Linked DNA regions of Homo sapiens. The protein of the gene in region 2 interacts with the protein of the main gene of each other region in a biochemical or structural test. Each region holds a gene or a part of one and is shown on either strand. Other genes may lie near its edges.

Evidence for each region.
Region 1: the proteins of XIAP (region 2) and UBE2D3 form a complex in vitro, tested with the Homo sapiens proteins (5 studies listed by BioGRID).
Region 3: the proteins of XIAP (region 2) and CASP9 form a complex in vitro, tested with the Homo sapiens proteins (12 studies listed by BioGRID and IntAct, with this or other methods).
Region 4: the proteins of XIAP (region 2) and HTRA2 form a complex in vitro, tested with the Homo sapiens proteins (10 studies listed by BioGRID and IntAct, with this or other methods).

The regions. Positions count from the first base shown.
Region 1 is NC_000004.12:102,817,409-102,824,890, forward strand, and holds part of UBE2D3 (ubiquitin-conjugating enzyme E2 D3), read right to left. Parts: intron 1-7,482. UniProt on the Homo sapiens protein: Accepts ubiquitin from the E1 complex and catalyzes its covalent attachment to other proteins. In vitro catalyzes 'Lys-11'-, as well as 'Lys-48'-linked polyubiquitination.
Region 2 is NC_000023.11:123,897,908-123,905,389, reverse strand, and holds part of XIAP (E3 ubiquitin-protein ligase XIAP), read right to left. Parts: intron 4,898-7,482; coding exon 4,697-4,897; intron 1-4,696.
Region 3 is NC_000001.11:15,507,005-15,514,486, forward strand, and holds part of CASP9 (caspase-9 isoform alpha precursor), read right to left. Parts: intron 904-7,482; coding exon 869-903; intron 130-868; exon of another isoform or gene 72-129; coding exon 1-71. UniProt on the Homo sapiens protein: Involved in the activation cascade of caspases responsible for apoptosis execution. Binding of caspase-9 to Apaf-1 leads to activation of the protease which then cleaves and activates effector caspases caspase-3 (CASP3) or caspase-7 (CASP7).
Region 4 is NC_000002.12:74,525,487-74,533,141, reverse strand, and holds the start of HTRA2 (serine protease HTRA2, mitochondrial isoform 1 preproprotein), read right to left. Parts: upstream 3,210-7,655; 5' UTR 3,136-3,209; coding exon 2,630-3,135; intron 2,526-2,629; coding exon 2,321-2,525; intron 2,232-2,320; coding exon 2,037-2,231; intron 1,804-2,036; coding exon 1,771-1,803; exon of another isoform or gene 1,731-1,770; intron 1,576-1,730; coding exon of another isoform or gene 1,546-1,575; coding exon 1,440-1,545; intron 1,287-1,439; coding exon 1,217-1,286; intron 885-1,216; exon of another isoform or gene 524-884; coding exon 428-523; exon of another isoform or gene 323-427; coding exon 157-322; 3' UTR 1-156. Other genes in the region: lipid droplet-regulating VLDL assembly factor AUP1, read left to right, coding at 3,513-3,562, 3,643-3,780, 3,860-4,010, 4,207-4,391, 4,653-4,725, 4,821-4,894, 5,136-5,202, 5,304-5,406 and 4 more; ATP-dependent RNA helicase homolog DQX1, read left to right, coding at 7,413-7,649.

The DNA.
Region 1 (7,482 bases), on a different chromosome or scaffold from region 2:
CATCTTCTCTGTTTTACAGTTGAGTCCCTTAAGAGAGGGGAAAGAAATGATTACATTCAAGCATAGAACATGTTCAGCTTTAGGATAGGTGAACTAAGTGTACCTACTAACAACTTAAAAATTTGGACTAGGGGTAAGTTTCAAAAAGGTTCCTTTCTCAACAGGGTGTCCTTGCAAAGATAATTTAATGTTTGGCAAACTGAGGGAAAAAAATTCTCAACTGCACCAAACTATTACTCAATGCTCCAGAATGAACACGATATGGAAAACTAATGTTTTCCTTAGTATTTATTTCCGCATAACCATCCACCGTTAGTCTGTATCTCATTATTCGTACGTAGTGTGAATCCAGTACTATTTTTCAAGTTACATGGCCTGAGAAAATGATTCTATCCCACAGCAAGACTATTTACTGGACTGGAAATCAATTTCCAACGACACCCATACTCAGCATTTTTAAAAGTAATTTTGTCTACGATAGTCACCTAACAAAATGTTTTTAGAGCCTAAAGTTTCACAGGCTTCAGGGACAAAAACACTAAAAAATTACACAATTGAAATTTTCAGCTTATTCCTTCCTAGCAGTCTAGAGGAAGAGGAACAGTGCCAAGAACCAGAAGGAACAGCTCTCACACGGCACCTGTAAAATTTTTTTATACTGTGCTGACTACCCCTCACCTAAGGGGAACAGCATTACTCAACTATTAAGGCCACTGAAACAGGAAAATGTTTGGTTGGGGACACTGACTTACTTTAGGAATTGCTCAAGGTTCCACTCACGTTGAAGGGACACTAAGATCAAGCACATACAATCAGGGTACAACACTAAGAAACTGTACTAGCTATAAAAAGAACAAAAGGTTGGACATTTCTTTTCCACAGAGTGCTCTTTTAGGAAACTTTCTCCTTTTAGTGTCATCTTCCTCTGAGCTGCTTCTCCTCAAACTTTCTGCACACTTGGCTAGTGTGAGAATCCAGACCTTCTCACTGGAAAAAATACTTGTATTTAAAAGCCTTAAAAAACCTATAGGAAAAGAAGTCAAGGAGACCCCTCTGCCTTCTTTCTAAGCTAGGTAAATGAGACCCTCTCAAAGCTCTCACATGGTCTAGTTCGCCTCATTAGTTAAAACACTACAAAGAAATTTGAGACAGCAACAGACTTTACACAACTGAGTTGTTTGCCTATTTCCTGAAGACCTGGTGGGCACCATGGTAGAAAATAGGGCAGGATTTTTTTCACCAAAAAAATCTCTCTAAAAGGCAACCAACAGGTACAGCTTAAGCCACTGGTGAGTGTTCTCATCTGGAAGTACATGATTTAAGCAGTAATGGGTTTGGTCACTATTTTTTTTTTTATTCTGAAACATTCCTTACATGAGATTTTTAATACAAAGCCTGCAAATGGTTTATCTTGAGGAAGACCTTTACTGTAGTCACTATGGGATATGGGATTTAACAGTTGATTGTTGGAGATGTTAAACTATGCTTTCTGCTTCTCTATTCTCTATCTTCCTCATTCAATGATAAGTGGTACTAGCAGTGGTGACCAACCACAGGCTACAAAGAACAGTAGGCCAAGGTATTGAAAACATTAAAGACCTGAAAGGATGCTAGGAGAAACATAAGAATGTCCCCTCCCTTGCTGGGCGTGGTGGCTCACGCTTGTAATCCTAGCACTTTGGGAAGCCAAGGCAGGCGGATCACCTGAGGTCAGGAATTCAAGACCAGCCTGGCCAACATCGTGAAATCCCATCTCTACTAAAATATAAAAATTAGCCGGGCATGATGGCGGGTGCCTGTAATCCCAGCTACTCGAGAGGCTGAGACAGGAGAATTGCTTGAACCCAGGAGACGGTGGTTGCAGTAAGCCGCAGTTGCGCCACTGCACTCTAGCCTGGGCAGCTGACCAAGACTCCGCCTCAAAAAAAAAAAAAAAAATTCCCTCCTTTCAAAGAGCTTATAAATTGGAAATACTAAAAATATTTATTCACAAATATTTATGAATATTATGAATATTCATGAAGCTACAGAGCAGCCATGTTCCAGGAGCCCAATAAGTATCTGAACATTCGGTTAACTTTCTTTCAATGACAGCCAGTATCTGTTCATCAGATCAACATAACCAAAAGGTAGCATTTATGAAAACAAGGTTTTAAGTGTCAACCCTATTAAAGCGTAACGCCATAAATAACTTATTCTAGGTTTCATCCCCCCAAGGCTTGTCAAAATTCAAAAGCCTATATAGTGGCAAGGCCAAGTTCATGGATTCTACCTTTAAGACAGTAAAATTATCACCACGATGTTCCACAAATCATTTGTTATCCCAATCTCTACCATCTATTTTGCACGTCATCACACAAAGGTCATACAGAGGACAGAACGCAGTAGTATAGATACATTTCCTCTCAGCACTTTCCGGAAAACTAAAAGCTTATGCCATTACTAAAGGTTAATTTCTTGTATTCTATTTGAGAGTCTATTTCTTTCAGAACTAAAGACAAGATTTACATGACTCAAAAGACAAGATTTGTATGACTGTGAATCAGCATTATAAAAACAGCCCTTGCCTCAAAAACCTATACTGAGCAACACAAAACACTGCTTTGGGGACTGGAAGAGATGATAAAATGAGGTGGGAAACAAAGGGAGTAAGTGCCTTAAGAAATTTTAAGAATCATCCTCAAGAAGACTTTACAACCAACCTAGAAAAATACAAAGGTGCGAACCAACAATAGAGGTCGAAGTGCAGTGCAATTAGCTGTCCATCAGGCAGACAGTAACTACTGTAACTGTTCATATAAAGATCTGGTTTACTATAAAGTTTTATTAACTTTAATGTTATGAAATGTCTGTATAAAATATGTAGATGCGAATATCAAGGCAGGGAACAACAAACTTCAGAAACATGGTTATTTCAAGAGAAGGATGCTTGGCAAAAAGATATGAACAATTTCACAAAACTCCAAATAGTCCCTTTAAAACACATTTTAATTTGAAATTTCTTCTGAGAAATCCTTTTTTATCTTAAGGTTTAACAGTAGGCACTGCACAGTATCTCACTGCATCACTGACAAGGTATTAACTTCCTGTTTAGTCGTAATTATAGGTGAAACAAGCATGCGTGTTCATTACACAAGGTACTAAGAATGGATTGAATATTACTAATTTTCTTTCGATCACCACTGAAGGTAAAGTCACTTAACATTATTCAAAGCCATTCTTTTGTAAGCATTATTTAAAAATGGGCAAAGAAACCCAAATTTAGATTTGAAGCTCTGCTCCATGAAAGCAAGAAGGGTGTTTTATGGACATTAAAACAAACAAAACAAACAAACAAACAAAAAAAACAAAGATTAACAGCCAAACAGCTGCCCAGTAGTAGAAAACATTCAATTACACATTAGCCATGAAATTACAGCAAGGTTAGGATTAATGTAAGTATTTCATACTGAAAAAGGTACAAGAAATCATGATTCACAATTGACAAACATTTAAATACGACAAATTCAGCTATGAAAAGTTGAAGGTCTCTTTTACAATAGATTATGTTGAAAGTATCATTAGGAGATAAAAATCAGATGTTTCAACAAAGTATAAAAATACTTCCCTAAACTTTTCCCTTCCCTACATAACAAGGTTGAGGATACAATTCTGAATAAATCTTATCTAATAAGAGAAACTGGGCAGTAAGATATTTGGTGAATGCATTCATTTTTAATTATGAAATAACACTGCTATGGTAGCAAGCTCAAGACCACAACATTTCCAAGAATGGAGAGTTTTATTTCATTAATTTCAAAATACTGGTTTTGGCAAGGGGAATTAAGTCATTATAATAAAAGACAAATCACATTGTAATAATACTAGTACAAAAAATACAGTATAGAAAATTTATTTTAAATACCTCCCCTACTAGATCTAATATTCTTGAAAGGTAAATTACAAAGTGACAAACAACTATTCATGTGTTTACATGCTTATTTTCACCACTGAACGCAGAGATTACCATAGATAAGGACCATCTTCCTCATTTATTCCCTGGGACTAGAATACTACGTCTAATGCAGATTAGGACCTTTACTCCCTTGTATCTGTGGTTCTTAATCAGAGAGGAGCTTCAGAATCACCTAGAAAATTTTCAAAATTATGTGTTTCCAGGGAAAATGATTTAGTAAGTCTAAGACCCCCATGCAGCTGTATTTTTTTTTTTAAATTCTAAACAATCTGACATTTAAAAATAAGTAAACAAGTATAACTGGATTGTAACACAAAGGATAAATGCTCGAGGTATATACCCCATTTACCCTGATGTGATTATGCATTGCATACCTGTATCAAAATATTTCATGCAACCCATAAATATATACACCAACTATGTACCCACAAAATTTTTTTAAAAACTCCAAATGTTCTGGAATATAAATGTAATTCATGTCACACCCAACAATATATAATATTCAGTAAGCTCTTCTATACGCTAACAGATACAAGAAAACTGCTATTTAAAAAAAGAATGCAAAAACCAACCTAGGTTTGAGATTTTAATCTGAAACATTTTTTTATCTCAGTGTTACGAACCTAGTTTCTTTTTTAATAGATAGATTATAGCAACATGCTGTGGAGAATCCTCAAAGATTGCCTGTCTTGGATAAAAAGGGTCACCTAAACTCAGGGGCAAAGTTTGACAGAGCAATCTAGTGACACAGTAGTTCATCCCAGTGATGGAGCATTCAACTTTTTATTTGTATAAATAACAAAAACTAGAATCAACACTGCAGATGAGCATGATGAAAGAAAAGTATGCAGTGTCAGTAATGCATCCTTTTTCAAATTAAACAAATACTGAGGTCCTATTATTATCAGCATCCTTCAGTCACAACTATCCTACACAGAAAGTGAGCTGGCTATCAACAAGCTTTGAGGACCATATATGAAACACATGCAAGACAGTTTACCCAGCCTATATACTAGTTGGGGACAATAAATATATTTTGTTCACTCTAAGACATCCTAAGCAGTTAACTGGCACATGTTAGTTTTCAGTGCTTGAAGAGACTACCCCAAAAGAATTAAATCCACTTCTACTTTCAAAATATTATTAGCCAAAATCTTAACTCACAAATTAGCTATAACCTAAGAGTAAAGCTAACTCCCAATTACTTAGATGTATAAGTGGGAGAGCAAAGCAGCTTATTTCAGGTAACAAACTAAAATCACATACATTATAAAACAGGAATTGAAGGGCCAGGCCACGTGGTGGCTCACGCCTGTAATCCCAGCACTTTGGGAGGCTGAGGCGGGTGGATCACGAGGTCAGGAGATCAAGACCATCCTGGTTAACACGGTGAAACCCTGCCTCTACTAAAAAAACAAAAAAATTAGCCGGGGGTGGTGGTGGGCGCCTGTAGTCCCAGCTACTCAGGAGGCTGAGGCAGGAGAATGGCGTGAACCCAGAAGGCAGAGCTTGCAGTGAGCTGAGATCGCGCCACTGCACTCCAGCCTGGGTAACACAGTGAGACTCCGTCTCCAACAACAACAAAAAAAGGAATTGAAATGGTTCAAAAAAGAGCTTGAGCTTTTGGTGCCTATCTGATTTGAATCCCAGTCACTTACTAGTTGTGTGACTAGACGACTATTTCTCTGAGCCTGTTACTTCATCTATAAAATTCTCACATCTATCCCACATGGTTGTCTTGAGGATTAAATGAGTTAGGGTTTAGATGAGACTGCATTGTCTTAACTACTGTAATAGATAATACTATATGCAAAAGTAAACCGTTCTGAATGACAAAAAAAAACTAAAGGATGATATCAAACTGTAGTTGTTAAGAGCACATACTCTGGACCAGGCTGCCTAGGTTCTAATCCCAACTGTCACAACATGAACCTGGGTCATCTTCTTAACCTCTATGCCTAAGTTTTTCAATTTCGAGATGGAGATAATCTTGAAATTATCTCAGTGGAAGTGGTGGTAGGAGGGAAACGAAGATCAAATGAGAGTTTTTTAACCCTTTACCCATGGTTTCCCTGCTAGCCGCTTGCTTATAATCATATATAAACACTAAAGTCATACTTCCAGAAATAAAAACCCTTACGAAAACTTAACAGGGTGTATACAATGAAAACATGAGCTATTCTTTTAGGCTTGGTTCACATATTTATCTTCAAACGTCCCTAAAACACATATATTGTAGTCCCTGTTTAATGGGAGTGGTAAAATTGTCTACAGCTCTCAATACCAATCAACTTGGAGTGCCACTTTTAACTCCTGTTGTTTAATAGCCCTATTTAAGACCATATTACAGCTCGTTCAAATAAAGAATACAGGAAAAAAGTTGATTGGTCTAACAGTCAAAAAACTTACTCCAAGAACACAGCTGAAGCAAAGTATAAATTCAAAAGCTCGATCAAATGGACTAAAGGTTAAAACTATTCCAATAATCATTTCAGTAAAATATTAACGAGGAATACAGATATATCATAATACTTGAAATGTGGGACCTTCAGACAAGAATAAATTCGAAATAGGTACGTAACACAAGCATACCATACTGACATCAATGGCTACTTGACCCCATATTTCTAGAAGAGGTGCCTAAACCGAAGAGCATTCCAGTTCAGAGCTGTCCACTCACTAAAATTGTTGGATGTGGAATGTTTGAAAGTTGCCTCATGTGATTTTAACATTAACAGCTGAAAAACCAAACCACATGCACACGTCAAAGTTTCTGTAAGTTGAATCAATAATGTTCACATAAACACTGGTTTTTCCAATATGCCAAGTTTTTATGTTGTGTCTATATTACATAAATCTTCAAAATATTTACAAAAGGAGACAACCTGGTTAACTAAGAGTACTAAACTAGAAATCAAAGTTCTTAAACAAAAACGATTTTTAAAAATTATAAATTGTGATATTAAAATAGCAGTAATAACTAGGAGTGTCATGTGCCAAGAGCCTGTTCAAATTTGCACATTAATCCATTTAATCGTCAAAACAAATCTAGGAACTTAAAATTTGTTTTGTTCACTGCTGCCACCCCAATGTCTAAAACAGTGCCTGGTACATATTAGGCACACAGTCATTTATTGTTCATATTACAACAGATACCCTTCTTATAGAGGCACATAAACTTGCCCAGAGCTAGAATTCTAACTGGAGCATTTCTGCTCCAATGTTTACACTCTTAACCACTGTTATATTGTCTCTCTAAAGCTTTTAAATCATTTAAGTGGTGTCACAGCAGCTGGGTATGACCTGTAAGAGAAAAAAAATCAGAGGCCTTCCTTTAACGTGTTCTGTTCCACATGCACAAAAAGCTATGGATCTGGTACTATTCCACATTTTAGTGGCCTGAACTAATTCCAACAGAAAAGATTTTTATTTGTACTGAATGTTATGCTCTTTGTGTAAACCACACTGTAACATACAACTAGGCTTCTCCAATATGTTCCTGGCCTTTAAAGTGGTCACAAAAAGAG
Region 2 (7,482 bases):
GGGAGAAAAGTGTTTTAGGCAAAGGAAACAGCATAAACAAGCTCCAAGGAGAGAGACAGAACGTGGCCTACAAGTGCACAGGCAAAGCTTGGGCACAGAATTTGAGAAAATAGCATGAGATGAGGCTACAAAAGGGTGCCTGATCATGAAAGATTAGGCGAGCCACGTAAAGGAGTTTGGACTTGATCCCAAGGGTCCTGGGAGGCAGTGAAGGGTTTTAAACTAGAGACAGATATGATCACATCTATGTCTCAGAAAGGTTTCTCTGGCTAGGGGGTAGAGGAAAGGATTGTTTAATCTCTTTCTTCTTAAAAAGTACCCTCTTGGGCATAATAAAAACTATAGGCTCAAACATGGAATGCATCAGAGATAAGAAGATAAAGCACTTACCCTTAAGAAGCTTGGTCTAATGGGCAGGGCAGAAACCAGTCCCAAAATAGTGTAAAAAGCAAAATGCTCAGCCAGGCCTGGTGGCTCACGCCTGTAATCCCAGCACTTTGGGAGGCTGAGGCGGGCAGATCATTTGAGGTCAGGAGTTCAAGACTAGCCTGGCCAACATGGTGAAACCCCATCTCTACTAAAAATACACACAAAAAAAATTAGCTGGGTGTGGTGGCGCATGCCTGTAATCCCAGCTACTCGGGAGGCTGAGGCAGCAGAATCGCTTGAACCTGAGAGATAGAGGTTGCAGTGAGCTGAGATTGTGTGCCACTGCACTCCAGCCTGGGCGACAGAGCGAGACCCTGTCTCAAGAAAAACAAAACAAAACAAAATAAAACAAAACAAAACTCTACCAGCACCAGGAGTAGATAAGAAGGAGCTCCTAACTCTGCTGTGGGTGCGGGAGAAAACTTGAAAGAAGTGACTTCTGAGCTGAACCTTGAAACATGAGTTCACAAAGTAGATTCAGGGAGTTGGGGGTAGAGTGGGGAATGGGACTAGGTATACAGATAGAGAAAACGTACTCAAGGCAGAGGAAAAAATACAAGTAAAGAAACGGCACTATAAGCTGATTTATATTATAAGAAAGCATCAACACCAAAAAAAGTCAGAATGAAGTGTGTATTTCATGCCAAAAAAATCAAAAGGAGAACAAGTAATTTCCACATTACTTTTAGATGTAATGCTACAACGAGTTAAAAACAAACAAACAGGCTGGGCGCGGTGGCTCACGCCTATAATCCCAGCTCTCAGGGAGGCAGAGGCGGGAGGATAGCTTGAGCCCAGGAGTTCGAGACCTGCCTGAGCAATATAGTGAGACCCCGTTCTCCACAAAAAGGAAGAAACAAACAAACAAACAAAGCAACAACAATACTGACACCTAGAGTAGTCAAATTTATAGAGACAAAAAGTAAAATGGTAGTTGCCAGGGGTTGGGAAGAGAGGGAATGGGGAGTTGTTTAATGAACATGTTTTTATTATTATTATTATTTTTTAAAGATAGGGTCTTGCTCTGTATCCCAGGCTGGAGAGCAGTGGTGCAATCACAGCTCATTGCAGCCTTGAGCTCCTGGTCTCAAGCAATCCTCCTGCCTCAGCCTCCCAAGCAGCTGGAACTACAGGCGTGTGCCACCACGCCTGGCTGTTTAATGGATGTAGAGTTTCGGTTTTGCAAGATGAAGAGTTCTGGAGGTTGACTGTGCAACAATGTAAATGTACTTAACACTACGGAACCATACACTAAAAATGGTTAAGATGGTAAACTGTATGTGTATTTTATCACAATTTTTTAAAATCTAAAAAAAACAAAAAACAAAACAAAAAAAAAAACTGAAACAAACCCCAAAACACTGGACCAGAAGTCAGGAAATCTGAATTCTATTCCCAACTATCGGCGTGATCCTAGGCAACAGCCCATCTGTACTTCAGGTTCCCAATTAAGGTCATAAAAGTTATAAAATGGGCTGGGTGCAGTGGTTCATGCCTGTAATCCCAGCACTTTATGAGGCCGAGGCGGGCAGATCACCTGAGGTTGGAAGTTGGAGACCGGCCTGACCAACATGGAGAAACCCCGTCTCTACTAAAAATACAAAATTAACAGGGTGTGGTGGCACATGCCTATAATCCCAGCTACTCAGGAGGCTGAGGCAGGAGAATTGCTTGAACCCGGGAGGTGGAGGTTGCAGTGAGCCAAGATTGCACCATTGCATTCCAGCCTGGGCAACAAAAGTGAAACTCCGTCTCCAAAAAAAAAAAAAAAAAAAAAAAATTATAAAATAATCTTTAAGGTTCCTTTGGTTCTGATTGTTTGTGATACCATATCATCTCATTTTTTTCTATATTATTTCATCCTTGTATAAAGCCACTAACTTGAGATGGTGATATTCTGGGCATAGATCTTTTCCCCTCAGACCAGTAGTTTACCACTGGCAATTACTTCCCTCTTGGCTTAAAGGTAACTACTGGATTCTACATACTTCTCTACAGCGCCTTTCCCCTTCTCCTCCCCACAAAGCCCTCTTCTAGGTCAGAAGGTTACTGGCACATGAGCAATAAAGGCTAGATAACTTTTGATGTTATTTGCTAATATTTGTAATTATTTAAAACCTCTTCTAGAATAAACTGATGTTATTCATTTTACTATTAGAGCAGATTCATATGGAAAGACAGATAAGAAATGAATATGGGTTATTTGATTTTTATATTATATACAGTAATATATATACACATAAAGATTAAAATAAGTACTTTAGTACATATACTAAATAAAGGGCTTTATCTTACACTACATAATTTTTTCAAAGAAAGAAAAAAAGATACTGATTCGGTACTATTTTTACAAGACCTTTTACTAGGGCATTCTCTGTTACACAGCCATTGGCAAAAAAGTTTAGCACTAAATCTAGGATTTCTCAGTAAGTGACAATGTTATATTTTCTCTAATAACCCTCACCTGCTTCACTTCAGTTAGCCCCATCCTTATTTTATATAAAATTAAAAGATTCTTAGTGCCAGTCTTTCCTCATCAGCTTTTGGGAAGACAAATAGGCAGCAGTCCCAGCATGAGTAGAGAGCCTGTATCAATTACTTGCCTCTCAATTTAGTGAGACTGAGGAGAGTTCAAATGAATTCCAACCCTTAGGCTCTCCTTCCCACACCATCCTAGTTTGTAGTCTCAGTGATAATATGAGCGCCCATTGACTCCTGTTAGATAGAGAAAAGACACTCTCCCTAATGCACAGTCTCTTGATCTCTTCCTATTACAACCTGCTAAACCCTTCTGCTGCAGATACATTAAGGTTTGAAAACTAACAATTTATGGCCAAACAATTAAGCGCGTGTTTAAGATGCAGGAAAAAAATGACACAATTGCTTGTGTTTCTGTTATAGTAGAAAAATTCCAGCCCGGCCAACTTGGCGAAACCCTGTCTCTACTGAAAATACAAAAAATTAGCCGGGCGTGGTGGCACATGCCTGTAATTCCAGCTACTCGGGAGGGTGAGGCAGGAGAATCGCTTGAGCTGGGGAGGCGGAGGTTGCAGTGAGCCAAGATCGTGCCATTGCACTCCAGCCTGGGCGACAGAGTGAGACTCCGTCTTAAAACAAATAAAAAATTAAAAAAAGAAAGAAAGATGACAATTAAAGGGTTTATTTTACCACCACCAAGATAAGTGGAGCTTGTGTAAGTTTTAAATAAATGCATCTATAAGGAAAAAATTGGAAGCTTTCCATTGATTCTTACATCAATGAATATAATTTTAAATATCATTAATGTTCATACTGTTTCATAACTTATACGATTATCTGAATAGTGTTTCAAAAGCACTTGAAATATCTTAAAGATCAAAAGGATCTTAAATGCGTCAAAAATAAGTAAACGTTTAAGTTTTTTTAGCAGTAGGAGAATTCTCATCTTTTTGGAGGGAGGATGGTCAAGAGCTTAGAGAACTATTACAGGTAAAGTACCCAAAAGTGTACTCAGTTTGAAACTTCTTCTTTAACCTTCGATGTTGTTGGCAAGCACTACAGTGTCCATCATCCTTAAAGGAGAGATACATATATTTTGAGACAAGATCTTGCTCAGTTGCCCAGGCCGAAGTGTAGTGGCATGATCATGGCTCACTGCAGCCTTGACCTCCCTGGCTCAGGTGATCTTCCCCGCTCAGCCTCCCAAGGAGCTGGGACTACAGGCACACACCACCATGCCCGGCTAATTTTTGTATTTTTTGTAGAGACAGTTTCATTATGTTGTCCAGGCTGGTAGAACTCATATTTTTAATCTTTTTTCCATGATTAATGTAATGATATTTGGAAATGAGGCCTTTGGGAAGTAATTAGGTTTAGATGAGGTCATGAAGATGAGACCCCCCCATGATGGGATTAGTGTTCCTAAAAGTAGAGGAAAAGAGACCAGAGTACTTGCTCCATCTTGTCCCATCCAATCCCAACCCATGCCATGTGAGGACACAGTGAGAAGGCAGCCATCTGCAAGGTAGGAAGAGGGCCCTCATCAATAACCAAATCAGCCAGCACCTTGATTTTGGAGCCTCCAAAACTGTCAGAAATAAGTCTGTTGTTTAAGACACCTAGTCTATGGAATTTTATTATAGCAGCTTGAGCAGACTAACACACAGCATTAAGGTTACGTTTAAAAAATGTCCATATCCACCTGTCCCAGCCTCCCAAAGTGCTGGGATTACAGGTATGAGCCACCACATCTGGCCCTTTCTTGCTTTTTAAAAACAGCAATGCATACCTTTCTGTAATGAAGTCTGACTTGACTCATCTTGCATACTGTCTTTCTGAGCATTCACTAGATCTGCAACCAGAACCTCAAGTGATTTATAGTTGCTCCCAGATATCTGAATTTTTTCCTCCATTATTTTCTTAATGTCCTTGAAACTGAACCCCATTCGTATAGCTTCTTGTACCATAGGATTTTGGAAGATGGTATCATCTGAAATAAAAATTGGTGAGGAAAAAGAACATAGAATTTAAACAATTATTTTCATTATCACAACTCAATAGCAAAATATAGTTAAAATGAAAAAATTAAGGAGCAAGCGAAAGAATAAAAACAAACCAGCAAAGCAAAGCTGCTTTGGGAAGATTTTTTGAAGTATTCAGGCACTGAAAAATCACTTTCAGAATCTTACAATTAATTGTAAATGCAATGAGTATGTATTTTGTAGTGTTTGAAACGATGCAAGGTAAAATAGGCAAGAAAAAGGTTAAGTGCTTCAAAAATCTGAACTGTTTTGAATCTAGCTGTACTCATTAACAATTAACCTAAGTTACTTAAAGAGTGGATGTTGTTACTGAGTCACTAGCAATTATTTGGGGAAAATGATGGGAAATCAGGGAAGTCCCAGTCTATAACCTTGAATGTGTCAATTTCCTAGCTCTCAAACTTCGTTTCTGTAGCAGAGCGGGTAGGACTGAATAAAGCAAGAAAGTCAATGGAAACTTGTTTTTATGATACTTAAAGTAGGAACACAGCATGTGTAGGGAAGTGCTAGGAGAGGACACTTATACCCTCTGACTCATCAATTCCACTCTTGGGTATTAAAAATGAGTGTATATCTCTGCCAAAGATATGCACAAGAGTATTCATAGTAGTGTTATTTATAATAGCCCCAAACTGGAAACAACTCAAATGTCCATCATCAGGTGAACAGATACATAAATTGTGGTATATTCATACGCTACACAGCAAGAAAAAAAAAAAAAACTATTGCCACAGACAATATGGATGGATCTCATAGATATAATGAGCAAAACATAATCATAATTCATCATTATGACACAAAAGAGTACCTACTGCATGAGTCCATTTATAAGAACTTCAAAACTAATCTATGGTAATAAACAAAATTAATCTATGGTAATAGAAGCCAGAATATAACTTGGGGGTGGGTACTGATGGGGAAGGAGCATGAAAGAACTTTCTAGGGTTGTGGGAATGTTCTATATCTTAATCTGGGGGATAGTCACACAGATAAATATATATATTTTAACATATACATTTTAATATATATTTAACACATATTTAATATATATTTTAACATATATATGTTAAAATTCATCAAGTAGAAAACTTACGATTAGGGTACTTTAAGCACTTTATGTGTGTATGTGTGCGTGTGTATATATATACAAAATCATATATATATACAAAATCATATATATACAAAATCATATATATATACAAAATCATATATATATACAAAATCATATATATATACACAATCATATATATATAAAATCATATATATATAAAATCATATATATATATATATATATATTTTTTTTTTTTTTTTTTTTTTTTTTGAGACGTAGTCTCGCTCTGTCACCCAGGCCGGAGTGTAATGGCGCGTCTCGGCTCACTGCAACCTCCACCTCCCAGGTTCAAGCAATTCTCTTGCCTCAGCCTCTCGAGTAGCTGGGATTACAGGCATGCACCACCACGCCTGGCTAATTTTTTTGTATATTTAGTAGAGATGGGGTTTCACTATATTGGCCAGGCTGCTCTCGAACTCCTGACCTCGTGATCCACCTGCCTCAACTTCCCAAAGTGCTGGGATTACAGGCGTGAGCCACTGCGCCCGGCTACTGTATGTATATTATAGCTCAATAAATGTTTTTTGAAAGAGAGGAGGCTGGGTGCAGTGGCTCACACCTGTAATCCCAGCACTTTGGGGAGGCCAAGGGGGATTCCTTGAGGCCTGGAGTTTGAAACCACCCTGGTCAACAAAGTGTGACCCTATCTATATTAAAAAATAAAAATAAAAGATAAGGCTGGGCATGGTGGCCCACGTCTGTAGTCCCAGCATTTCGGGAGGCTAAGACGGGCAGATCGCTTGAGCCTAGGAGTTCAAAACCCCGTCTCTGCAAAAAATACCAAAAAATAAAAAAAAAAATTACCCGGGCATAGTGGTGGGCGCCTGTAGTCCCGGCTACTCAGGAGGCTGAGGCAGGAGAATGGCGTGACCCCCGGAGGTGGAGGTTGCGGTGAGCCGAGATCGCGCCACTGCACTCCAGCCTCGGTGACGGAGCGAGACTCCGTCTCAGAAAAACAAAAAAACAAAACAAACAAAAACAAACAAACAAAAAGAAAAACTCTGTTGGCAGGTTATAATACAGACAAAAGACCAGTTAGGAGACTACTACAATTGTCCAGTTGAAAAACAAGGAAGGGCCTGAACTAGAGCAGAATAAGTGGGAAAGTCTGAAGCAACATTAAAAAGGTGGAATCCATCAAATTTGATGATTAATTAAATGTAAAAGGATTACAGAGAGCAAAGAGCTTAGGAACAACATAAATTACTGGGCAACCTTGTGAACTGTGGTACTATTAACCAATACAGGAGAAAAAAGTGCAGGATTAGATTCAGTCTGAGTGGTTTTTAGAGATGCATTCTAGGTGGAAATGTCCAGAGGGCAACTAGACATTGCTCTTTCCTGCTTCTCCTATCTTTGACTTGTTTTTATTTTCAGTTTGTTTTGTTGCTCCATTACTTGTGCCCACCTAATTAGATGTTG
Region 3 (7,482 bases), on a different chromosome or scaffold from region 2:
GACTCACGGCAGAAGTTCACATTGTTGATAATGAGGCAGTGGCCACAGGGCTCCATGCTCAGGATGTAAGCCTGCCAGCACAGGGACCCACGTAAACCCGGGCTCTCCCCACGCTCCCTAGAGGACAGTCTGGAGAGGCGGGAAGAAAACGGGGTCTGCCCTCTCGCACAAGGAGTAGCAGGGTCTCCACCCGGCATTCCAGGGCAAAAGAGAAGCAACTGCAGGGAAGACTAGCACTAGAAGGTGACCCCCCCATCTTGGTATTAAGGGAAGGGAGCTGGTAACCTGGAAATCCAACAGCCATGAGCATTCATCCCAAAGGACCTCACGGGTCACCTAGGCCGGGGTGTACCTGAGAACTCTGTCAGCAGAACCATGCCCAGGCCACCTGGAGGCACCCAAGGCTGCCCTCTCCCCAGGCTCAGTCCCCTTGTAATTCTCTCAAGGCAGCCTGTTCTTTTGTTGATGGTACTTATCACTATTTCTATTTATATACTCATTTGTCTAACTTCTCTCTCGCCTAACTGACTGATGGCTCCTTCCCAGGTGGCCCCAGCACAGAGCATGGGAGCCACACAATAAATACTTGTGAATGAGAGAGTGGCGACTTGGTCTGGATCCCGATGACTGCCCCTCATCAGGTCTGCCCTGCTTCTGCTGTCAGCTTTGCAGATGAGGAAGCGCAGAGATGAACAATCTGCCCCAGCAGGCGCTGGGCCGGAGTCAGGGAGGCTGAGACCAGACCCCCACTGCACTGCCTAGGGTTGGGTTCCCTGGGCTCCTGACACACCTGCAGGGAAGGACCTGAGGGGTGGGGAGGGAAGGGCCCAGAGCCCGAGCTACTGGCCCAAATTTCATGGAGACTCACCAAATCTGCATTTCCCCTCAAACTCTCAAGAGCACCTGAAGAGGCAGAGAAAGAGAGAAACATGAATGTTGGGTTACAGCAGAGGAGGGGCAAGGGGCTCTGTGAGGACAGCCCCCCAAGAACGGAGCAGCGAGAACTCAGACCCTCAGACTCTGCTGGTGGGAGAGCCACCTTGGAGATCTGTTTAGAGGTTTCTAACAAAGTTAAACACACACCTACCCTCTGACAGCAAGTCCACCCTTAGGTATATATCAAAGAGCAAGGAGTGCAAACGGGCACAAAAGACTTGGCCAAAATGTTCCCTGAGGCCTTATTCATCACGCCCCAACATGGAAACAACCAATCTAACAACAGTTTGGTAGATATACAAATTGTGATACAGCCACACAAGAGAACATTACACAGCCTAAAAAGGAATGAGCTACTGATGATACAGGAGACAGAAAGAAATTATTTAGGCAGATAGTGAGGGTAAAACAGTCCTCGGCAGAATTTCCCTTTTAACAAAATCCCCAAATCGTTTCTTTTCTTTTTTTTCTTTTTTCTTTTTCTTTTTTGAGACGGAGTTTCACTCTTGTCGCCCAGGCAGGAGTGCAATGGCACTATCTTGGCTCACTGCAAACTCTACCTCCCAGATTCAAGCAATTCTCCTGTCTCAGCCTCCCAAGTAGCTGGAATTACAGGCACCCACCACCATGCCCGGCTAATTTTTTTGTATTTTTAGTAGAGACGGGGTTTCACCATGTTGGCCAGGCTAGTCTCAAACTCTTGACCTCAGTTGATCCACCCACCTCAGCCTCCCAAAGTGTTGAGATTACAGGTGTGAGCCACTGCACCCAGCCTCAAATCATTTCTTTTCTAAAAAAGAGCAGCCTGAAAAATCAAGCTGCAGACATAGATAAGCAAGCTGGAAGCTCACAGGAGTGAATGCCAGCAGCTGTGCCAATAGAAAAGGGCTACCAGGGGGCCAGATATACTCAGCAAAGAGGCTCTATCTTCCCTTTTGTTACCACAAGACAGTAAAGAAGTAGGCAACATGGCACTGGCCAGGTAGAGAACCCATCTGCATAACACAAGATTGGAGTGGGGCTGGCCAGCTTTTCGCACCACATGCAAATGGCACACCTAGCCCTAACCAGTTTTATGCATCCTATGCAAATGAAACACCTGGTCTGACCAATCTTTGTGCCCTTTGTAAATCAGACACCATCTCCTCAGGCTCATCTTTAAAACCCCTTGCATTTCATTGCAGAAACAGCAACCCATTTCACTGGAACCCCTCTCTCTGCAGCAGACAGAGCTCTTCTCTTTCTTTCACCTATTATACTTCCACTCTGAACCTCACTGTATGTCCGTGTCCTAGTCTTCCGTGGCTGTGAAGACAATGAATCTTGGGTATTTACCCCAGACGAGTGACACCGCTTCACTGATACACGCAATGCGGGATAACCTTGAAAATGTGCTGCGTAAGGCCAGGTGCGGTGGCTCACGCCTATAATCCTGGCACTTTGGGAGGCAGATCACCTGAGGTCAGGAGTTCGAGACTAGCCTGGCCAACGTGGTGAAACCCCATCTGTACTAAAAATACAAAAAAAAAAAAAAAAAAAGAAAAATTAGCCAGGCGAGGGGGCAGGCGCCTGTAATCCCAGCTACTCGGGAGGCTGAGGCAGGAGAATCGCTTGAACCTGGGAGGCAGAGGTTGCAGTGAGTCGAGATCACGTCATTGCACTCCAGCCTGGGCAACAAGAGCAAAACTCCATCTCAAAAAAAAAAAAAAGAAAGAAAACGTGCTGCGTGAAAAAAGCCAGACACCAGAGAGTATAGAAATAGTGTGGTCTCATTGAGAAGAAATTCCAGAGCAGAAAGAGGTGAGAGAAGCTCAGGAGAGCGGATGCTCACTGTCTGCGAGTCCACAGGGGCCCAGCACACAGCAGGTCCTCAGGAAATACTTGCAGAATGAATAAATGAATAAAGATGATTATTTTCCATCAACATCAAAAGAGTTTTCATTTCCGTTAGCAAGAAGTTGACTGGCCACCAGCCTAAAAGGTTATGAGATGTTTTTTCTTTTTTTTTGAGACAGAGTCTCGCTCTGTCACCCAGGCTGGAGTGCAGTGGCGCGATCTTGCCTCGCTGCAACTTCTGCCTCCTGGGTTCAAGCGATTCTCCTGCCTCAGCCTCCCAAGTAGCTGGGAGTACAGGCACCTGCATCACGCTTGGCTAATTTTTGTATTTTTAGTAGAGATGGGGTTTCACCATGTTAGCCAGGCTGGTCTCGAACTCCTGACCTCAGGTGATCCACCTGCCTCACCCTCCCAAAGTGCTGGGATTACAGGCATGAGCCACCACGCCCGGCCTACATTTTTTCTTTTTTAAACAAGGAGAATACAGTGGCCACCTCCAAGTTGCAGTGGAGCCCATACTCCTGTTCCAATAACAGTGCCATTCCTTGCTTAGAACAGGTCTGAACTATTCTGCCAGCTTAAAGGCCACAGCAGAAAAGCACTCACATCCCATTCACATCCCATTTTTAAAGTTAGAAATGGTTTTACCTACCCTGAAAATTCCTATTCATCCACAGACTTCATTCTGAGAACATTTGCTCATTTCCAAAATTCCGCTGTACCCCAAAAATATAACTACTATCCACTACTGAGGAATTCACTCATTCCCCAAATTAGAAATATCTATTGATAAAGCAAAATGACTGCTCTCAAGAGGCCAAGGGCTACAGGTGCCCATGGAGGGAGCAAATCAACCAAGGGGTGCCCAAAGAAAGAGGGAGAGGAGACACTCCAGGCAGAGGCCCCGGCATGAGCAAAGGCAGGGAGGATGCAGGAGCATGGCATGTTCAGGGCCCCTCAAGTTGGGTGACATGGTCAGATACAAGGTGCATGAGACCAGTTTCTCCTGAAATGGCCACTCCCATGGGGACAATAAACACACATGGCTAAGTGTGTGCAAAAGAATCAGTCTTCCAGCCTGAGTCACTGGGCATGTGCCCAGGTCTCCAACACAAACAGAAGAGGGCAAGCACATCCTCTCTGCCACCCAAGGGAAAGAAGGGGTTTCGTCCCTCCGAACCTATGCTGGAATCACCCCAGAAGTGGCAGCAGAAGAGTTCCCACAAGGGAGTGCCCCAAACTGTCCTAAGATGGGGCCAGTTGGGATTCCAAAGAAAGAAGCAATAAATGCCAGGGCGATCTGGCCAAAGCAATCCTCGAGGTGCGGAGGCGAGAAAAAAAAACAGGTGTCTACCTAGGTTTGGTCCAAAGTGAAGAGGTCAGGGTAAGGAGTTTATATGAGGGTTTAAGGAATTTGGCTCAGGGCCAAGGCTGGTTTCTTTCAGTTGTTTTGGGTGATAACCTAGATACCTTTTTGTTTTGTTTTGTTTTTGGAGACGGAGTCTCACTCTCTTGTCCAGGCTGGAGTGCAGTGGTACAATCTCAACTCATTGCAAACTTTGCCTGCTGGGCTCAAGTGACCCTCCCTCCTAAGCCATCCAAGTAGCTAGGACTACACCACCACACCTAATTTTTTTTTTTTTTTCAGACAGAGTCCCGCTCTGTCGCCCAGGCTGGAGTACAATGGCACAATCTTGGCTCACTGCAACCTCTGTCTCCCAGGTTCAAACAATTCTCCTGCCTCAGCCTCCCAAGTAGCTGGGATTACAAGCACACACCACCACGCCCAGCTAATTTTTGCATTTTTAGTAGAGACAGGGTTTCATCATGTTGGCCAGGCTGGTCTCAAACTACTGGCCTCAAGTGATCCATCCGTCTTGGCCTCCCCAAGTGCTGGGATCACAGGCGTGAGCCACCATGCCCAGCCTACCTAGATACCTTTATCAATGCCTGAGAATGTTTAAGGCCCAGGTTTGGGCTCAGGTCTGCTGGGAAAAACCTGTAGCTGGCTGGGTCACAGGGTGGTCAAAGCACTCTGTGATTTTCAATCAGGACACAGAAAGAAACAGGGGAACTGGGGGACCCTACAGAAGGGAAGATGCCCTAGGACTGGCCCTCCCCAGCCCTTGGCAATTTAGAAATCACAGAAGGAAGCAGAGCTGACCAACAAGACCCAAGGCTCACTCAATAGGAGGCCCCATGTGAAGTCCCTCCACACACTGCCTCATTTACTCCTCAGAGCAGGCCCTTCAGCACAGAAGTACTGGCACACATCCCCATTTGCCAGAGGGGAATTGGGGGCTCAGAGACCCTGAGTTGTAATGGGAGGTGAGCACAGCCACCAGCCCCAGAGCAAAGAGACCAAGAAGCCAGGTAGGGCTGAAAAGCCAACTTCTACTTTCAAGGAAGTTCCAACCCAGGCAAGGCATGAGCAGAGAAAGCCACTGATGGTTGAGTTCACAGGTCAACTTGACTAGATCACAGGGTACCCAAATATTTGGTTAAATATAACAGTATTTCTCAGGGTGCCTGTGAGAGTGTTTTGGGGATGAGAATGGGATTTGAATAGGTAGACAGAGTAAAGCAGATGGCCCTCCCCAGGATGGTGGGCCGCGTCCAATCCGTCAAGGGCCTGAATAGAACGAAACAGTGGAGAATGGGAGAATTTGATCTCTCTCTGTCTCACTACTTGAGCTGGGACATCAGTCTTCTCCTGCCTTTGGAATGGGACTTCTACCATTGGTGCTCCTGGATCTCAGGCCTTCAGACTCAGACTGGAACTACACCACCAGCTTTCCTGGTCTCCAACTTGCAGATGGCAGATCTTGGAACTTCTCAGCGTCCATAATTGCATGAGCCTGTTCCTTGTAATAAATATGTTTTTAGATAAAGATATATATATATACACACACAAAAAAAATGCATATATCTTTCTATATATATCCGTGTGTGTATGTGTGTATATGTATATATATAAAACAGAGGCCCAGAGACTCAACTACTTGTCCACTGTGACACAGCTGCTAAGTGTTGGAGTTGGGCTTTGAACCAAGTACCTCGGACTCACTCCATCACTGCCTCATAAAGGACAAATGGCTTGGCCAGGTGCAGTGGCTCACGCCTGTAATCCCACCACTTTGGGAGGCTGAGGCGGACAGATCACGAGGTCAGGAGATCAAGACCATACTGGTTAACATGGTGAAACCCTGTCTCTACTAAAAAAAATACAAAAAAATTAGCTGGGCATGGTGGCAGGTGCCTGTAGTCCCAGATACTCGGGAGGCTGAGGCGAGAGAATGGCGTGAACCCAGGAGGCAGAGCTTGCAGTGTGCGGAGATCGCGCCACTGCACTCCAGCCTGGGCAACAGAACAAGACTCCGTCTCAAAAAAAAAAAAAAAAACGAACGGCTCATTCTCTTTCTTGTCTGTGTATATGTGCCATTAATCATTAGCTCATGCAAATGTTTACTAAGTACCTGCTGAGTTCTAGGTGTTGGGGATGCAGCATTGAACAAAAGATGCTGTTTTATACACATACACACACCCCCTATTGGTTCTCTTTCTCTGGAGAATCATGAGAACACAGCCACCAACAGTTCTCCCAGTCCTCCCGGGCAAGAGGCCCTGGCTGGAACAAGCAGTTACACACAAGGCATCACGTCTGAAACTAAGAAAGTTCCTTCCATTCTGAAGGAAAAGGCATTTTCCTTTGAATATACAAAGACAAAGCCACTCTCTCTGGTGGGTCCCCTAATGATGCACCTCTAAAGCACCGTGTTCAGCTTCATAGCACTACCCACAGCCGTGAATAAAGACCAAATTAGGCAAGCATGAACTGAGTACCTGCCCCTCTCCACCTGAAGGCAAGGACTGGGCATCCTTGTTCGAAGCTGCATCCCCAACACCTAGAACCCAACAGGTACTTAGTAAACATTTGTGTGAGCTAATGAGTAATGGCACAAATATAGGGACAAGAAAGAGAATGAGCCATTTGTTCTTCATGAGACAGTGATGGAGTGAGTCTGAGGTACTTGGGTTCAAATCCCAACTCCAACACTTAGCACCTGTGTCACAATGGGCAAGGAGCTCAGAGTCTCTGGGCTTCTGATTTCCCCATCTGTATTACAGGATAATAGGAGCAACTACCAACCTCATAGGATTGTGATGACACCTCAAACAATTAATACATGTGAGGCACATAGAACAATACCCGACACACTTGACAACTCAATAAAACTGATGTGTCCACATTATTATTCATTGACACTCATGCTCAATGAATATGTATGAGTGCAGTGTGTGTACTCAGCCCCACCACACTAACCCTTTGGGCCAGATTCTTCTTTATTGTGCAGAGCTACTCTGTACACTGTTGGGTTTTGGCAGCATCTCTGTCTACCCACTAGATGCCAGTAGCACCCACCCACCCTCAGCTATAACAACCAGATTTGTCTCTAGACATTGTCAAATGTCCCTTGGAGGTCGGGGAAAAATCGTCCCCAGTGTGAAACACTGACCTACAGCATCCTTTCCTGTATTCACTTATTAAAGGCTCTGCTGCTGGCCCTATTCTTGCTCAGCCAGACCTTCCCATACATATGAATACACAGCTCTTCCTTTGTGGGTCACCATGAAACCTACCTTGGGAAACATTCCCATGCAGTACTCTGGAGTCTAAGGCCCAGCATCTAAAAAGGACATCTCTCAGCA
Region 4 (7,655 bases), on a different chromosome or scaffold from region 2:
TTTCTGTGATTCTTCAGAGCCCAGGAGTCAGTGCTGGTGGTTGGAGGGACCTGCCCCCACTGGTTCATTTAACCCTCTGTCTCGGTGCCCTCAGAACCTCAGCCAGAAAGGCAAGGAGGAAATCAGAGCAGGAGCCTCATACTCTTGGTGATCTATTCATTCTGTGACCTCAGGGGTCACATATAAGGTCAGTGTTTCTCGTCCCCGCCGGATCTGCACTGCCAACTGGGATTGGGTTCGAACAGCTTCATAAACATCTTCAGCATTTTGTACCATCTGCTCCCCAATGGCCAAAATCACATCACCAGGCCGCAGACCAGCCCTATAGAGAAAAATGGACAGAGAGAAAGGAAGGAGTACAAAGCCTAGTTCAAGGACACATGCACACCTTGCCCATCCCCATATCACACTGCAGCCTCTCCCTCACCGGTGTGCAGGGGAGCCCAGGATGACTTTATGGATGAGTACACCATGCTGAACATCGGGAAAGCTTGGTTCTCGAAGCTGTAGTTCAGCAAGGATGCTGAAAGTACACAGATCACCCTATTAGCCAAACCCAGGCATTCTCCCCATCCTGAGTTCCACCTCAAGTCTCTCATCAACACATTGATAAATATATGGACAGGACATGGGCTAGGTACTACAAAATACAATGGCAACTCACTTTCTGTCTTCTAGCAATAAAGTGCAACATGTACATAAAAGATGTACACCACATGAGGGCACCAAATGACAAACAGTGTTAAATCAATAGCACTAATGTCATTCTAGAATACTAAGAGAAGCTTTAAGGGGAAAGAACTTAAGTTGAGCCTAAAAGGATGGATCTGATATTAACCATATAAAACAAGAACAGCATAAATAAAAAACATGGGAGTAGGAAATCAGGTTGGCTGAGTATTCATATAGGAAGGTATTACAGCCAGGTCTAGAAAGTTGATTTACAGACAGATGGAAAATGGCCCTTAAATGCCAAGTTAATGGATTGAAGGCTTGAAATCAAAGCAGTAACAGGATGAAATCAATCTGGTGACAGGTGTACAAAGTGGAGTGGGATAAGAAAGTCAAGATGATGAAGGGAGACAGCTCTTGTGATTATTTCAAGTGTGACACAGTTCATCTTAGATAAAGACAGAAATGAGAACAAAGCTCAATAGAGGTGCCCCCCTCTGATTACACTGGTCACATTACATGTCACTGTCCCTAAAGCTCATACCTGGGACTCAGGGTCAGCATCATCACCCCAATGTAGCGCCGCTGGGACCCACTGATTCCGGAGGAGGAATCTGTGACAGAGGGACAAATGAGCCCCACCCAGCTACATCCTTCCTTCCCTGCCCTCTTCTCCCAGTAGACCACCCTCCAGGAAGTCCCACTGAATGCCCTTCCCCTATTTCCACCACATTAAAGGAACCCGTTTCCCCATAAGGCAGGCTCACTCTTCTTTTCCCCACGATGCAGAAACTCTCGAAGACGATCAGAAGGGATGGCAAAGGAGATTCCAGCTGTGACCTTCATGGTGTTCACTCCAATCACCTCCCCATCCTGCAGGGATACAGCCCCCAGTTCCCTAGCCTAAACAAATAGTAGGGGATGGGGGCACCCGAACAAAAGTACCAGCAAGTGTTGGGGAGATCTGGTTGGATATTGAGAGATAGCCAACAAAGAACTGCTCAGAAACTTGACCAAACATCCTTGAATTAGGGGAAACCTACCCTTCCCACACTGACCTGGGGCAGGGATTCTTGGAAGGAAGGATGTCTCACTCACCAGGTTAACCAGGGGACCTCCAGAGTTTCCAAACTGTAGGACAAGGAGAAAACATGAAAGAGATCTGGGGATTCTAAGTCTGGGGGCATACCAGGATGTAGGTACTTTCTCCAAATTCTCTTCTTTCTCAGCCCATGAATAAGTGGCCACATTTTTGCAGCCTAAGCTCTATATAGGCTCATCCACCATATATCAGTTGGTGCTTGTACCACACAGCCTCTCCCCCCTCCCCCATCATTTGTCATTTCTCTCCTATCAGGACGCACATCAATAGCTGCATCAGTTTGAATGTATTCCACATTGGTTTGGGGGAGTCCCAGGTCTCTGGCTGGACGCTGAGCAGAGCTAACAATGCCGGATGTGATCGTGTTCTGCAGTGCAAAGGGACTTCCCATGGCAACAACAAACTCCCCTTGCCGGACATCAGCTGAGCGTCCCAGAGGCAGCGTGGGGAGAGGCTCCTAAGGGAGAATGGGTAAAAGAGACCTGTCATCTGAAGATGCGAGCAAATAAGCAGCTCCAACCAGACCTGGCCTACCCCAGCCCCCACCTTAGTCTGAATCCTCAGCGTTGCGATGTCTGCCACGGGATCCACAGCTGTGACCACGGCCTCATACGTGTCGCCGCTTAGCAGTCTCACACGGACTCTGCGCCGATCAGCCACCACATGGGCGTTGGTGACAATGAGCCCATCGGCAGCCACCACGAATCCTGAGCCGTTCGAGATAGGGACCTCGCGGCCCAAGAAAGGGTGCCTGAAATGGAGGGAAAGCACAGATAAGAGGAGGCTCTGACCCCTCCTACCCGCCCGCCCTCCAGCCTGTGGCTTCAGTGCCTCCCGGTCTACCCCCACCATTACCGGTCCAGGATCTCGATATAGACCACGGCAGGTGCTGTCTTCTCCACCACATCTGCGATGAAGTTGTACTGACTCCGGGGAGAAGCGGGCGGCGGGCTAGGGACGGCGGCGAGGACGGCCGGAGGACCCCGACCCCCGCCCCACAACAACAACAGCACTGCCCCCCCAGCGCCCAGCGCCACCGCCAGCCACGCGCGCGAACGGGTTCCAGAGTTCTCTGAGGCCTCCCGGGTCCTGGTATCTGGGGTCACCGCAGTCAGTTGTGCCCGGGGACCCGGGGTCCCAGACGTCAGGCATGCTCGGGGTTCAGTGACCCCAACAGACAACCGGGCCCAGAGACTGGGGGTCCCATAAGTCACTCGGGCCCGGGGGTCAGAAGTTCCTGACGTCAGCAGGGCCCGGAGGTCAGGGGTCAAACGGGGTCTCCTCCCCCAGCGAATGCCCCCCAAAGCCCGCCATGCCCGAAGGCTCCAGCCTGCACCCCGCCCCGCCCTCGGCGCAGCCATCAGCTCCGCCTTGGCTGCCTCCTCGCCCGCCCTACTCAGAGGCGGCACCCAGGACGCGAGCAGGCGGACAGTAGGACGCGGGGCACGCCGGTACCTGAAGTCCTTCAGAAGTGCACGCCGGGACCAGGATTCCGGGAGGCCGACTCCTCCCTGCCCCACGAATGCCGGGAATTGTGGTCTCCGCCGGACGCGAGTTGTGAGACGGCCCAAGGGGCCGCGGGGTATGCTGGGACCGCTAGCCCTTCCGGCGCGCCTCAGGACTTCGGGTCCCCTCACCCCGGGCGGATGCCCAAAGACTCCGCCTTCCCAAGAGCCCCTGCGGCCGGGCGCGAAAATGGCGGCGGCGGCGACGGCCGGGCGCTCCTGAAGCAGCAGTTATGGAGCTTCCCTCAGGGCCGGGGCCGGAGCGGCTCTTTGACTCGCACCGGTAAGAGACCCGGCGGGAAGAGACCGATCCCCGCGTGCTCTCGGCCTTCGGCGCCTGACCACTTCGCCTCTCGCCCCCAGGCTTCCGGGTGACTGCTTCCTACTGCTCGTGCTGCTGCTCTACGCGCCAGTCGGGTTCTGCCTCCTCGTCCTGCGCCTCTTTCTCGGGATCCACGTCTTCCTGGTCAGCTGCGCGCTGCCAGACAGCGTCCTTCGCAGGTTCCGACGCGGGCGTTCGGGGAGTGTCAGAGCTGGGTCTGGCCCGAGGCCACACAGTCACCACCTCCTGTGTCCCCAGATTCGTAGTGCGGACCATGTGTGCGGTGCTAGGGCTCGTGGCCCGGCAGGAGGACTCCGGACTCCGGGATCACAGTGTCAGGGTCCTCATTTCCAACCATGTGACACCTTTCGACCACAACATAGTCAATTTGCTTACCACCTGTAGCACCGTGAGTGAGAGCGAGGCCGAGAGCGCCACGGGGCGGTTCCCTGGGGCCCAGCTGAAGGCCCCCCTGTCCCCACTCGCGTTCCCCATGGAGGATACTGAGCCTTACCCCTAACCCCGATCCTCTACCCAACATGTCAGTTTTTTTTTTCATTTTCCTCAATATTTTTCTTCTTGCTTTCTCTTCTCCTGGTTCCCAGCCTCTACTCAATAGTCCCCCCAGCTTTGTGTGCTGGTCTCGGGGCTTCATGGAGATGAATGGGCGGGGGGAGTTGGTGGAGTCACTCAAGAGATTCTGTGCTTCCACGAGGCTTCCCCCCACTCCTCTGCTGCTATTCCCTGAGGAAGAGGCCACCAATGGCCGGGAGGGGCTCCTGCGCTTCAGGTGGGTTTAGCACAGGTATGGGGCGCCAGCTGGGTAGGTGGTCAAGCTTGTGGGCCCTTGAGTTTTTACAACTTTCTTCGGCCCTTAGACCCCATCATCTCCAGTTCATTTCCTTTCTGTCCACTTTAAGTTCTTTCTCCTGAATCCCTTCATTCTTCAATTATGTGCTTGTAGAGTTTGACAGTTGCCTGTTATAAGGCAGGTGTGAGCTGCTGACTAGGCTGGCTGGATTCCCATCCTACTTTCTCCTTCCTCTTCTAGTTCCTGGCCATTTTCTATCCAAGATGTGGTACAACCTCTTACCCTGCAAGTTCAGAGACCCCTGGTCTCTGTGGTGAGTGTGTGTTGAACAGGGAATCTCTGGGGCTTGAAGGGGAAATTTCCCATCCCTGGCCCTGGCTTAGGCCTCATCTCATGCCCTCCCCTCAGACGGTGTCAGATGCCTCCTGGGTCTCAGAACTGCTGTGGTCACTTTTCGTCCCTTTCACGGTGTATCAAGTAAGGTATTAACTGTCCTCACATTTTGGTCGCTGGGGAGAGGCTCACCTCAAGGTCAAGGAATTAGTGGCCTCTGCCCTGTCCATTTGTAGATCTTTATATCAAGGTTCTACCACAGAGGCAACACAAAGTATTTACAGTATTTACTATTTTCCCACCCACCATGCAAAGAGGTACCAAAGTGGGGAATGGTGACAGCCTCTACCCTGGGTGCCCACAACATAGCCCTGGATTGTTTCTTTGCAGGTGGCTTCGTCCTGTTCATCGCCAACTAGGGGAAGCGAATGAGGAGTTTGCACTCCGTGTACAACAGGTGGTCGGGTGCACAGACAGGGTGGAGGCGGGGTCCCTGCTTAGGAGGAGAGGGAGGAAAGCTTGAGATCTTGACACTTCCAGTCTTCCAATTCTCCCTAGCTGGTGGCCAAGGAATTGGGCCAGACAGGGACACGGCTCACTCCAGCTGACAAAGCAGAGCACATGAAGCGACAAAGACACCCCAGATTGCGCCCCCAGTCAGGTATGTGGTCTCTATACATTACAGCTTTTGGGGTTTTTTTTTTTCGGCCTACTGTGATTCCTCCCCTATTTCTGTGCTAGTTAGCCTCTCCTTCTAGTTCTCTACTTACCAGAATTTCTTTTTTCTTTTTTTCCTTTTTCCACAGCCCAGTCTTCTTTCCCTCCCTCCCCTGGTCCTTCTCCTGATGTGCAACTGGCAACTCTGGCTCAGAGAGTCAAGGAAGTTTTGCCCCATGTGCCATTGGGTGTCATCCAGAGAGACCTGGGTATGGGAAAGGGTGGCCCCACACTGGGAGATGGGCACAGGGAGGAAAAGTGGGTTGTGAAGGAAGAAAGTAAGTAGGGAGTGGACTCCCTTCTCTTTTCTCCCCAGCCAAGACTGGCTGTGTAGACTTGACTATCACTAATCTGCTTGAGGGGGCCGTAGCTTTCATGCCTGAAGACATCACCAAGGGAACTCAGTCCCTACCCACAGCCTCTGCCTCCAAGGTGAGACCCAGGAAATGGTCAGATCCAAGTGTTGGGGTGAGTTGGGGGCAGGCTATGTACTCCCTTATCCCTGACCTTTCTTTTTTGATCCTGAGACCCTAGCATAGTGCCTCTCTTGCAAAGTAGGCATTCGATGCGTGTTTAATGATGATGACTCCGCAAGCCCTCTGACATTGTGATCACCTCAGTTTCCCAGCTCTGGCCCGGTGACCCCTCAGCCAACAGCCCTAACATTTGCCAAGTCTTCCTGGGCCCGGCAGGAGAGCCTGCAGGAGCGCAAGCAAGCACTATATGAATACGCAAGAAGGTGAGGGGGTTAGAGGACAATTAATAGGATGTGGCAAATTGGAGAATGGAATTATGGAGCTACTACGGCAAAGCCTGAATAATATCTCTCCCTATGTCCCACAGGAGATTCACAGAGAGACGAGCCCAGGAGGCTGACTGAGCTCAAAGGAACAGGATGGCACCCAGAGCCGCAGGACGGAGACTGGGGGCAGCCCTCACCCAACTCACAACAGGCTGGATGGGTGGGTGGTAAAAAGGGAAGGATGAGGCTCCCCCAATGTCACATTAAATTCATGGTTTTCATTCAAGGCATCTGTTGTCTCTCTCGGTCTCAAAAGCCCTGTGAGTGGGTTCCTTATTCCTTGGCTGCGGGGGATGGGGGTGAGAGTCTTCTCGTACATTTGAAGGGGGTAGTCAGACTGCAACTGTCTAAAATCACCTCCTCATGCCAAGTGATGAGTGATAAATTAAGGAAGTGTAACTGAACTGAAGACCCAGCTTGGGTGATCAGCCCAGGTTTTGGAGGAAGCTGCTGCAAAACTACAAGTCCCAGCATGCCTTTCACAAGCACACTACACATCATCTATAGAGTTCACACATGCTCAGTGTGGTAGCTGGAGCCTGTTTTCCATAGGTTCCTGACTAGGTTAAATAAGGTGGAGCAAATAGCCCCACCCCAAAAGCAGGCTTCAGGATTTGAAGTTTGAGCCCATCCCTGAGGTAGAGCCGGAATTTACCTTTGTACTTCACACGGTCAGGGTTGGTGGTGACTACGTGGGTCTGGAGCTGACTGCCGTCCTGACACGTCCTAGAGCTGCAAGCAGGTTTGAATCCAGGATCCCTGTGACTCTGCTGTTCCTCTCCCCACCCCCTATATTCTTTATCCTTTTCCCTTCAGGACTTTCCCACAGGTTACTAGGTCTCACATAATTTCTACTGCCCTTGAGGACCCCTGCCTAAGTAAGATTTCTACTACCTGCCAACGGGGTAATAGTCTCAGGTAGATTTCTACTACCTGACTATAGGGACTGTCGACTAACTCTCAGTAGCCCTTTATCAAAATACCTAGCACTGTTTCCTGGCAGGAAATGCTGGGAAGGGTGGGCCCCAGAGCATGATCAACTGAAGGTAGAGGTTAAGGATCAGGGCTGAGGTGGGAAGATGGTGTCGGTCACCAAATATGACCTTACTGGCTGCTCTGCCTTCTGCAGGTCCTGCCAGAGAGCCACCATGACCTCTCAGCCTCTCAGGCTAGCAGAAGAGTATGGCCCAAGTCCTGGGGAGTCTGAACTGGCTGTGAACCCCTTTGATGGGCTTCCCTTCTCTTCCCGCTACTATGAGCTGCTGAAGCAGCGCCAAGCCTTGCCCATCTGGGCTGCTCGCTTTACCTTCTTGGAGCAGTTGGAGAGTAACCCCACTGGAGTGGTGCTGGTGTCTGGGGAGCCTGGTTCTGGCAAGAGCACCCAGGTGTGG